Linked DNA regions of Homo sapiens. The protein of the gene in region 1 purifies or fractionates together with the protein of each later gene. This does not show direct contact. Each region holds a gene or a part of one and is shown on either strand. Other genes may lie near its edges. The genes, in order: ALK, TUBGCP2 and ERAP1.

Region 1 (3,652 bases):
AGTTCCAAATAACCATAACAGGACACTAATAATGATTATAAAGAAAGGCAAAATTTCCTTTACAGGTCAGACTGGAAAAATTTCCATGTTGTGAGGTTGCCAGGCAGTGATCCTGAGTGGCAGGGCACTGAGACTTCTGCTGATCAACTCTCATTCTTTTCTTCTCCCACCTTCAGGCCAGTTCCTCCTGATTTTCAGCAGACCAACTTCCTTATAGATATTCCTTTCTCACTCTGTTGCCCAGGCTGAAGTGAGGTGGCACAATCTCAGCTCACTGAAACCTCCAACTCCCAGGTTCAAGCAACTCTCCTGAGTAGCTGGAACTAAGGCGCATGCCACAATGCCTGGCTAATTTTTTTATTTTTAGTAGAGACAGGGTTTCACCATGTTGGCCAGGCTGATCTCGAACTCCTGACCTCAAGTGATCTGCCCTCCTCGGCCTCCCAAAATGCTGGGATTACAGGCATGAGCCACTGCGGCCAGCCTAGATACCCATTTTTATTAATAATCACACTCTCCTCCCATGCCTTACACAAAAACCCCTCATGGACCTTCTTTCTCTTTTAAAAATTTTTGAAATGTTAAATTGGATGTGGATGAACTTCATCTTTCAAATGGCAATATAGATTCTCAACATTTAAAGGGATTTTTAAGTAGCCAGTAGGAGTCCACCAAATCTAGAACTGATGGCATCTTCTCAAGACACAGGTCACCTTTTGCCCTGCTCAGTGATGCTTTGTCATATACCCTCACCCATAGATGTATCTTAGATACACAATTCTCTGGTGATTGTGCCTCCCAAACCCCTGGATATACAGATCGCACCCCAGAGAAATAATCTATGTTTAATTGGAGGGCAGGGAAGAATAAATTCAGTAATTTCAAAATATTTGTCATTAACAATTTCTTAAGTGCTTCTCACCAACTTCAAAGATGTATATGCAATTCTTTTCTTTTCCTCTAAAAACACCAATGCCCAAAGGCTCCAGGGTTTGGATCATAAAAAGGTTCTGATTCCTTCTGCCATTCTGCATCCCAGCTCTCTGTCCTGTTGTAGCTTCTCAATATGTGAAAATATAGAACTGATTAATTAGGAATGCTGGGACTTGTCTGACCCACATCTCACCTGACTCCCCACTCCATTGGAATTCCATTCCATAGTCAGAGGAATATCAATGTCAGAAAACAAGGTTTCCCTGATATCCAACCCGAAGTTTGCTTCTACAAGTATGATCCAATTACTTCCATGGGCCACGCTAAATAACTCCTCTCCTTCACTGCCACTCTCTCTCTTCAGAGATTTGTAGATTGTTACCATGGCTTTCCCTTCATCGCCATTTAGCCCAGCCATATATATTTAATTCTTTTCATCTTTCATTGTAAATCAGTCCCTTCAACTGTTAAATCAGCTCTCTGCTCTTCTCTGGACTAGTTCCAATTCTCCCAATTCACCTCCAATAACTGATATCCCTTCTGGGAGCTCCAATTTCCTCTCCATCCTCCTTTGCTCTCTCTGCCCACTCCAGAAATGAAATGGGAAGGGACTGACAGATATGGGAGTTCAAAGGTCAGATATATTGCATTGCATACATCTCTAAATTGCTCAGGCCTCTCCATAGTACATGTAAAATCCAAAGTCATGTATCCACTTTCCTGGGTGGGGAGGGAGTGCTTACAGGGAAATAGGCCTCCTATCCCATGAGTCATCATCCCCTAGCCCTCTGCCTGGGTGACAGCAGAAACAGATCTCAAAACACCTGTAAGCCAGGATACAAACTGGAGCTGTGGGCAACATGCCAGCCTTGCAGACAGACATCTTTTCTATGATTTGGGCTGTCCTGGGAGAGGCCAGAACCATTAATACAGTCCCAGAAACTGCCTCTTCACCTCTTCTCCATGAATGGGTGAATTTGGGATCTGCCTCAGACTTGAAATGCCGATCCTATTTCTGAATTCACAGTAACCCACAAGGAAAAACCATTAGCATTTCATGCATTATAAGGCCTCTCAGACATCTTTCTGTCCTCTCAGACAGCCCAAATCACAAGCAATGCAACGGTTTTGCTTTCTCCTAACTGGTGCTTTTTCATTTTTACTATTTTAGTCATGGTCCTGCTCAGGTTTAGGAAGCTATCTTTGGTCTGAGCCAAATGGGCTGCTCCAGGCCCCTCACCACAAAACATGGAAGAACAATCAGCTCTTCCCTCCCCCACAAATAGCCCCATCAGCATCATTGTGTACCTCCAGACAAGACACTTGGGCAGACACAGGAAGAAAATAAGCTGAGCTGTGCCTACTTTCCTTCTGTATAATTGAAGAGCCCACATCATAGAAGAGTTAAATGCCTTTTCTATAAATCAGAGCCTATATAAAAATAATAAACCCATTTCTCCAAACATGATAAATAGCAAAATCAATCCCAGTGTCAGAACCTAACCTTGAATTTTCATAGGGAAAATGAACGGAACCATAATGATACATGTTGTCTGAAACACAGAACATGGTATAGCAAGGTGTATCTACTCCATGGGGATGTCTGCAATGGAGACTGTATCTGAATGAGGCTGGGGAGGCAATGATAATGTGAGAGAGGCTAGTCCTGCATGGCCAGCTGCCTAACTGCAGACAGCATATGTCCTCAGAGAAAGGAGAGACCAGGCTGTTCCAAGTATGATCACCACAAGGCCCGAAGTGCTTTTCAATAGGCTGGCTGTCTCTCTGGAGGTCATGGGGAGCTCATCCAGTTACACTTAGTGTCTTATTTGATCCTATCAATAATCATTTGATTCCAATCCTGCTGAAAAATGCTTGGCCAAATTTTCTTGCCTTTTAATGGCAGAATCCTGGCTCCTACTGAAATCAGCATTGCTAGATGTGTCAAATGATGCATAAGGGCTTGGTCCAGCTGCCAAATGTACTGGGCCACTGAGGGAGGGCTTGGGATGCCCACAATGCTTCCCTACAGCCAATAGCAGAGAAGCCCTTGGAGCACAGCCTTTCTACATAAACCTCCCCACTCAGCAGCTCCAACACCTTATTTAAGACTTGAGTGGAGTATATTCTTTAAATGAATTAAGCATGTGACTCTTCAGAGACACCCACTGATAGCTTCATGCAACCTACCTGTTTACAGTTGGCAGGTTCGGGGCTGTAGAAATGAGCCCTTTTGCCTGTCACCAACATCTGACAACAGCTGATACAGACTGCTGGATTCTATGGTCATTTGATAAAAGGTGATGGGGAAGCTCCACAGATGCTCAGAGGCATGAAACTAGAAGATAATCTGCATTTCCAGAGAAGTCATTTTTATATCCATTACTAAAACACTGGGCACTAAAACAGAATGTTGCATGTATAAACCACACAAACCACAATGACATTAAAGCCCAGCTGTTCTTTACAAAAACATCTTGGGTGGAACAACAGTATCAGTCTTCCATCTCAGTTCACTGAAGGCACTATCAAACTCATCAGTGCCTCTTAGGATGGTCTATATAAATTCCAGCACTAAATGAAAAGGGCTCACTTTAGGTGCCAGTGTCACTAACACTAATGTTGAAATGTGCATCCGCACTCTGTTTTTCTTGGGGGTCACATACTAGTATGTATTCTGTGCAATGACTAGGGAACCTCAGCTTCTGAATATCCCTCC
Region 2 (3,652 bases), on another chromosome or scaffold:
AGCTACTCGGGAGGCTGAGGTGGGAGAATCACCTGAGCTTGGGAGGTCGAGGCTGCAGTGAGCTGAGATTGTGCCACTGCACTCCAGCCTAGGCAACGAAGTGAGACCCTGTCTCAAGCAAAAAAAGAGTCAGTTGCTTCACCTCCCCAATATTCAACATCCTCAGTGTCATCTCAACACCTGCGATGTCACCTGCAAATCACCACGTCCGAACGACCACCGAACACGTGGCTCCTCCGTGCCGGTGTGGGGAAAAGGCAGGACGCGGGCAGATAACACCTTCGCATGCTGCGCGGGAGCGACCAGAGGGAGGGGCACTGCGGAGGCGGCGCTGGCCAGGTGGATGCCCACACGGTGAGGAGAGCATGGCGGGAACGTGGAGTGCTGGCAGCTGCCTCGTGCTCACAAGGTCCTGATGCTTTCCAAGGCACCTGTCCTCATCACACCACTCCACAGCTGTTTTCCAGAGGACGCAGGCCCGAGGTCACACAAGGTCCCGTGGTGTGGCACTGGTCAAATCGTGGGGTGAGGAGCTAGACAGGCCCCGGCATGAACACCACAGTGAGCTCCATTCTCAAGTCTGCACAGGTGGCACAAGGGGACAGGGACAGTGCGGACAAAGGGAGGCAAGGCAGCCTCAATACCGGAGGCACCCCTGGGACCTGTGGTATGTGGCCGTGGGAGGGAGGTGGGGCGAGGCCGCCCCTTTCCTGGGATGCTGAGTGTGCTGAGGGCACCTGCACCCTGACCTGAGAGCTGGCTGCAGGGTTCACAGCCAAGTCTCACACACTTGCTGCCAATCACCGCCACGCTCAGAGCTGCCCACGGCGCCGCAGCGTTACTGGACAGTGCGTTCCTCTTTTGTACAACCCCTTCCCTGAATGGGGAAACATGGGGGGAAAGCCTGAACACCCCCTCAGTGCCTCCTGCTCCAAAAAGCCGGCTCCACTGCTGGGATCCCAGGCAGCAGGGCCCCGCGCTTCCTTCTCCGAAGTCTGCCTGGGTACCATCAGGAGCTCTCAGGTGCCCACCACTCCCCGGCTGCCTGCTGAGTACCCGCTAAGGGAGCAGCTCTCTCTCCCTAAGTCTTCACAGTTGGGTTTTCACAGTTGGATTATTACTGAAAACACTGCACAAAGCAGACTGCTTTGTTTTTTTTTTTTTGAAACAGGGTCTCGCTCTGTTGCCCAGGCTGGAGTGCAGTGGCACGATCACAGCTCACTGCAGCCTCGACCTCTCAGGCTCAAGTGATCCTCCCACCTCAGCCTCCTGAGTAGCTGGGACTACAGGTGCACGCTACCACACTCGGCTAATTTTCACATTTTTTGTAGAGACTAGTCTCGTCCTGTCGCCCAGGCTGGTCTCGAATTCCTGGGCTCAAGGAATCCACGCACCTCACCTCCCTAAGTGCTGGGATTACAGGTGTGAGCCACCATGCCTGGCCGAAGTAGACTGTTTTCCATACTTTTCATTAACTTACAGCATGGTTTTCTATACTTCTCATAACTTACAGCAGGGTTTTTCTATACTTTTCATTAACTTACAGCAGGGTTCTGTTTGCTTGGGGATGAGGAAAACAGGTGGATTTCACGTCACCGTTCTCCAGGGTTTCCGGCAAAGGCAAGGGTTGGCCCCTTGGTGCCCACATTGCAGAGCCGTGAGTAGTGGGGAAGCAGACCACGCTCCATGCTGCCTCTTGAGTTTGGACTAACGGGGATGGGGCAAGATAAGCAGGTATGCTCTGTCCTTAGTTTGTGAAATCTCATTTTTCAATCTAAAAATGTACTTGACTAGGCGTGGTGGCTCATGCCTGTAATCCCAGCACTTTGTGAGGCCAAGGTGGGCAGATCACCAGAGGTCAGGAGTTCGAGACCAGTCTGGCCAACACGGCAAAACCCCGTCTCTACTAAAAATATAAAAATTAGCCAGGCGTGGTGGCGCCTGCAGTCCCAGCTACTTGGGAGGCTGAGGCAGGAGAATCGCTTCAACCTGGGAGGTGGAGGTTGCAGTGTGCCGAGATCACGCCACTGCACTTCAGCCTGGGCGACAGAGCGAGATTCCATCTCAAAAGAACTAAAAATAAATAAAAATAAAAATGTACCCATGAATTGTGACAGATGAACACATCCCAGGTCCCCAATAACAACGTCTTGAAATGACTGTGTGGTCTCACCCGCATCTTGTTTACACGAACACTACTTAAGAGGCCTCTGAGAATACTGCTGTAACAGAATCTATGGGAGTCATGAATCGCTGTTCAGAAATAAGTGCTGCACACAATTCTGATGCCTGCAGGTCTGCACCAGGGCACCAGGATGCCGGCTGGGGAGGGGCCTGCTGCAGGCTGCCCCACAGCTCTGGCAGAAGGGACAGGAGAAGAACCCTCAAGGACCCGGGTGAGCCGTTCTCTGCTGCCATCCTGGGATGGGAATATGGAGGCGGCAGCCAGTCAGCATTGAGCCTCACAACCTGAGGAAAGGCAGGCCCGGGGGAGGGCTGGGCCTGCAAAGTGTCCTGCCCAGAGGCCAGAAATAAACACATGACATACCTATCGGCAGAGCCCGGAAATCAACGCATCACGTACCTATCGGCAGAGCCCGGAAATCAACGCATCACGTACCTATCGGCAAAGCGGTGTCTGTGCTGATGCCAGCACCAATCAGGAAATCCCCGATCAGGGCAGGTCTCTCATACACCCATGCTGGGAAGATGGGGAGGTGCTGGCCTGAATTTTTTTTGTTCTGCTTGTCTCGAAGCATCTTTCTTTTAAGTTCCAGAGACTAGCAAGGACATTTTAAAAAACAAAACCAGAAAGATACACTTTAGCGCAAACACTCAACTAAAGACATGCATAGAAGCTAGCATCTACGGCAAAGATGATTACTCAATTCAACACCCACAAAGGGTCAACCACATAGAAATGAAATGCGCCTCGACATCCCTGCCTGCCACAACGTGAGGGGCTGGGGACAACAGGGCAGATGGGGAGCCCTAGCCCCTCTTCTCAGGAGTGCAGGTCCTGCAAGGGCCCCCCTGGGAAAACATGAGCACCAGCAGTGGGAACCACGGGAGAGGGTGCACCTAGGCACAGAGCCGCTGTTTCAAAGGAGGGCGCCCTGTGAACAAGCTGAATTGCTTCTTTCTGGCAGTGACTAGGTCTGAACACCACTTGATGGGTGAAGACAGGCTTCAGCAACAGACATGCATCCTTACCCTGCCGGAGAAGGGCCCCAGCGTGACAGGATGGCTCCTGACATGTGGTCAGAGAGCCTGCCCTCCTGCGCCAGTGGCCGCCAGAGGCTGATGGGGTCGGCCTGGGCTGGCCCAGCTTTCGGAAGCACTGACTCCCACTCAGGGCTGGTCAGGGACACGGGCAGATGCAAACTGTCTCTGCACGTGGCAGTAAGACCCAGTCTTCTGCCACGGCTGAGGGAGACGTGGACAGAGGCCTAGCACCATGTCCAGCACAGAACGTGCCCAGCAAGAACCGGCTGGGTCCTTGGGAGCCGCTGCACTCAACACGCACCCAGGAGGCTAGGACGCCTCAGGGACACAGCTCCAAAGGGAGTTTAAAGGTCACAAAGGCAGGAACGTGGCAGCTCTAATGAGAGAGACTGGGAGATGACTTACGTCAAAAGACCAGGGTAGGGCA
Region 3 (3,652 bases), on another chromosome or scaffold:
TAATTGTTTAGTTTTTCAATTTCCAAACTCCTCATCAGAAGGTTAGAAATGGAGTCAAGAGGCCTGAAAAGGCGGGCACGGTGGCTCATGTCTTGTAATCTCAGCACTTTGGGAGGCCCAGGCAGGTGGATTACTTGAGCCCAGGAGTTTGAGGCCAGCCTGGGCAACATGGCAAAACCCTGTTTCCACAAAAGTACAAAAATATTAGCTGAGTGTGGAGGTGCACTCTTGTAGTCCCAGCTACTTGCAAGGCTGAGATGGGAGGATCACCTGAGCTTGGGAGGTTGAGGCTGCAGTGAGGTGTAATTATACCACTGCAAATGCACTCCAGTATGGGTGACAGAGTGGGACCTTGTTTCCAAAAAAAAAAAAAAAAAAAAAAAAAAAAGGCCTGAGATGCAAGTCTGACTTTGCCACATTTATAGCAAAGTGATGCTGAGTCACTAAGCCTCTTTTTCTCCATTGTGAAAGGTTCTTCCAGTCTAGAGCTCCATGATTATGCACGGGCAGCTGGTTCAAACACCTATCCATTCTGAAGATTAGTGTTTGGGAGAATGTATAGCTTAGAGACTGGTAATGTATTTTATTACTTCCTTCCCAAGATCTTGCTGCTATTCCCGACTTTCAGTCTGGTGCTATGGAAAACTGGGGACTGACAACATATAGAGAATCTGCTCTGTTGTTTGATGCAGAAAAGTCTTCTGCATCAAGTAAGCTTGGCATCACAATGACTGTGGCCCATGAACTGGCTCACCAGGTATAAGCTCATTCACACTTTTAATAAAGTATAAACTACATTTATATTGCTTCTATGGGACATATAAGGCTATTTATATAATTTTTACTTTGTCTTTTTTTAATAGGAAAAATTGTTTCTCCAAAGCATTCGTTTTTATGTCTTATAATGCATGTTGAACTTTTTTTATTTTTACCTTGATTAAATATTGGTCCTGTAAATATATGTTAACATTCATAAACTTATATTGGACATCTAAAATATACTTCTTTCTGAGTGTCTTTGTTTATGGCTTATGTTGTGCTTTTAGTGGTTTGGGAACCTGGTCACTATGGAATGGTGGAATGATCTTTGGCTAAATGAAGGATTTGCCAAATTTATGGAGTTTGTGTCTGTCAGTGTGACCCATCCTGAACTGAAAGTTGTAAGTAGTTATTTATCCTTCACATTTGAGGTTAATTTGTTGTTTTGTTCAATATTGCTGGAAAATATTCACTAATCTTTGATTATAGAACTTATAAAAATATTTCACTGATAACTTCCTTGACAGTTTAGATATGAATCGTGTTGCAAAAATGCTAGTGAACTTTCAAGATATACCACAAAGACTTATTTACAAACTCAGTTGTGAATCTATGATTGTTTGTAAATTGTCCGATTTTATATTTCTTAATATCAAAGAAATAGAAATAATGGCAGCCTAAATGTTCCATTTCATTTTCCCAACCTTCAGGTTGCTCATTGCAGAATTATTAGGTACAGATTACTGATATCTCAATAGGACCCTACTTGCCAAATCAAATGAGTTATACTTAAGGTAACTGCACATTTGATTGTATAACAACCTAGGCTTCTGGATCACAAATTTATTGCTTTGGAACTGCTATATGGTTTATTTTTTAAATCACCACATTTAACTTAAGAAAATCACATATAGCAAAATTAAACTTATGTAAAAATTTTTTTATCCTACTCCAATGATTCTTTTCATTTGTAAATATTTATTCCTATTTTCATCTGCCTGTATACATTATTTAAAATATACATTTGTGAATATTTATTACTGCCTATTTTCATCTGCCTGTGTACATAATTAGAAAGTACACATCAATATTGCATTATAATCCTAAATATTTTCTTATGTTTCTACATGATCTTTAGTAATAAAAATGATTATGGATACATATTGTCCTGTTGAGCTAATGTGCTCTAATAAAGCTGGTTAAGGTTCTCCATTTATTTTCATTATGTTTTTAAAGGTAAGTATCTTTGCTCTAAAACAGTACAGACAATGATTGGAAATGTTGAAATTACTATACAGTTAATTTCTTGTTGTGTTGCTGTTTGGCTATAGGCATAATTGTTTCGTTTTTAGATTAATACGAAATTTTCTTTATTCTAAAGGACTTAAGATGAACAAAATCTATAATGTTTAACTAAAATCATTGTTTCTTGGGTAGCTTTTAGAATATATTAATTCTATTTTGTTTCATAAATATTAGGAAATATGGAATAGGTTGCCCCCAAAATGTGAAGTATGGACTTCTTGCCTCAGATAAAATGTCCCACCTTTGACATTTTTTATCTAAATGTAAATCATAGGTGATGTTTTCTTTTTTCTATCTCAATAGGGAGATTATTTCTTTGGCAAATGTTTTGACGCAATGGAGGTAGATGCTTTAAATTCCTCACACCCTGTGTCTACACCTGTGGAAAATCCTGCTCAGATCCGGGAGATGTTTGATGATGTTTCTTATGATAAGGTAAAAGTAGATTGAGTATAAGGATACAGTTTAGATACTAAAGTTATACATACTGGGGTGGAGAAGTTATAGGCAAGGTTGTGGGGTTAAACCCAGATTGAATGCCTTCTCTCTTGACACGTGCTGGCTGGAGTCAACTCTTTTAGGACTAACTTGCAGTTTGGCTCATAACCCTAAAGATTATTTTATGGGAAATTCTTCATATATTCTTTCTTGGGTTGAAAATTCATGGCTTACAGAAACTCTGCTTTTATTCATCATTCAACAAATAGGTATTGATTGAGCATCAACTTTGTACTAGACAAAAATTCCTGCCCTCGTGTAGCTTACTTTTCAAGGCCTTCAGCAATGGTTAATATTGTTGAGACGCAAATAATTGTCTTGCACAGTGTGCTTAGTAACAGAGTTGGGAATTGTTGACAACAGTTTAATGATTGGGAGATTTTATGTAAAATCCAGATTTCTAGCTTCTCTTGGGGAAGAAAAAGGAGGATTTGGCCACTGTATGTTCTTTGCAGCATAAGCTGGAGCTAAGTTGTTGTTCTCTCTTTGTAAGATCAAGGCTCTGCTTTTCCACTTTCCCTGCCATTCCCAACTGTTCTATTGTCTTCTCACCGAGGCTGAGAGTGTGTTGCCAGTTACCATTGTGCTTGGCTGTTGTTTTACCGGTAGCAAACAGAAAAGTCTTTCTTGCTTGCATGTTTCCATTGAAAGTCCAGGGGAAAAAGAATGTAAAAGAGCATTCTTCTTATCCTTGGACTACTTCCCTTATTTATATGCCCTGTCATGTGCCACTGGAGGCATTTGAGTTTGTGACTCACCATCCGTGGTAATGGGAGTGGAGGGGAAAAGAGCCCTTTACCAAGGAATACAGGGTGTCTGGGAAGACTCTTGTTCCCTTTCTCATTGTGACTCCAGCTCCATCAGCCCTCCATGCTCAAGGCTGCCTGGGCTCCCTGGACATATCCACTTTTCCTTCCCTGGCATCTACCTCTGCCTCCATCTCTAGTGCTCCACCCCTTGTTGTACTGGCCTCTCCTTAGTCCTGCCCTGGAATGGCAGTGGGAGAGCCAGGTAGTAGCTCAAGGTCCAATGTTTAATCTGCACCATTATCCCCACTCACATGTGAACAAAGGGAGTTGGCAGATGATGC

What was found.
Region 2: the proteins of ALK (region 1) and TUBGCP2 purify together in Homo sapiens (affinity purification with mass spectrometry, with the first as the bait; one large-scale study listed by BioGRID). This does not show direct contact.
Region 3: the proteins of ALK (region 1) and ERAP1 purify together in Homo sapiens (affinity purification with mass spectrometry; one large-scale study listed by BioGRID and IntAct). This does not show direct contact.

Annotation. Positions count from the first base shown.
Region 1 is NC_000002.12:29,915,035-29,918,686, forward strand, and holds part of ALK (ALK tyrosine kinase receptor isoform 1 precursor), read right to left. Parts: intron 1-3,652. UniProt on the Homo sapiens protein: Neuronal receptor tyrosine kinase that is essentially and transiently expressed in specific regions of the central and peripheral nervous systems and plays an important role in the genesis and differentiation of the nervous system.
Region 2 is NC_000010.11:133,295,332-133,298,983, forward strand, and holds part of TUBGCP2 (gamma-tubulin complex component 2), read right to left. Parts: intron 2,781-3,652; coding exon 2,621-2,780; intron 2,074-2,620; coding exon of another isoform or gene 1,990-2,073; intron 1-1,989. UniProt on the Homo sapiens protein: Component of the gamma-tubulin ring complex (gTuRC) which mediates microtubule nucleation.
Region 3 is NC_000005.10:96,790,908-96,794,559, reverse strand, and holds part of ERAP1 (endoplasmic reticulum aminopeptidase 1 isoform b precursor), read left to right. Parts: intron 1-513; exon of another isoform or gene 514-573; intron 574-602; coding exon 603-757; intron 758-1,046; coding exon 1,047-1,160; intron 1,161-2,367; coding exon 2,368-2,499; intron 2,500-3,652. UniProt on the Homo sapiens protein: Aminopeptidase that plays a central role in peptide trimming, a step required for the generation of most HLA class I-binding peptides.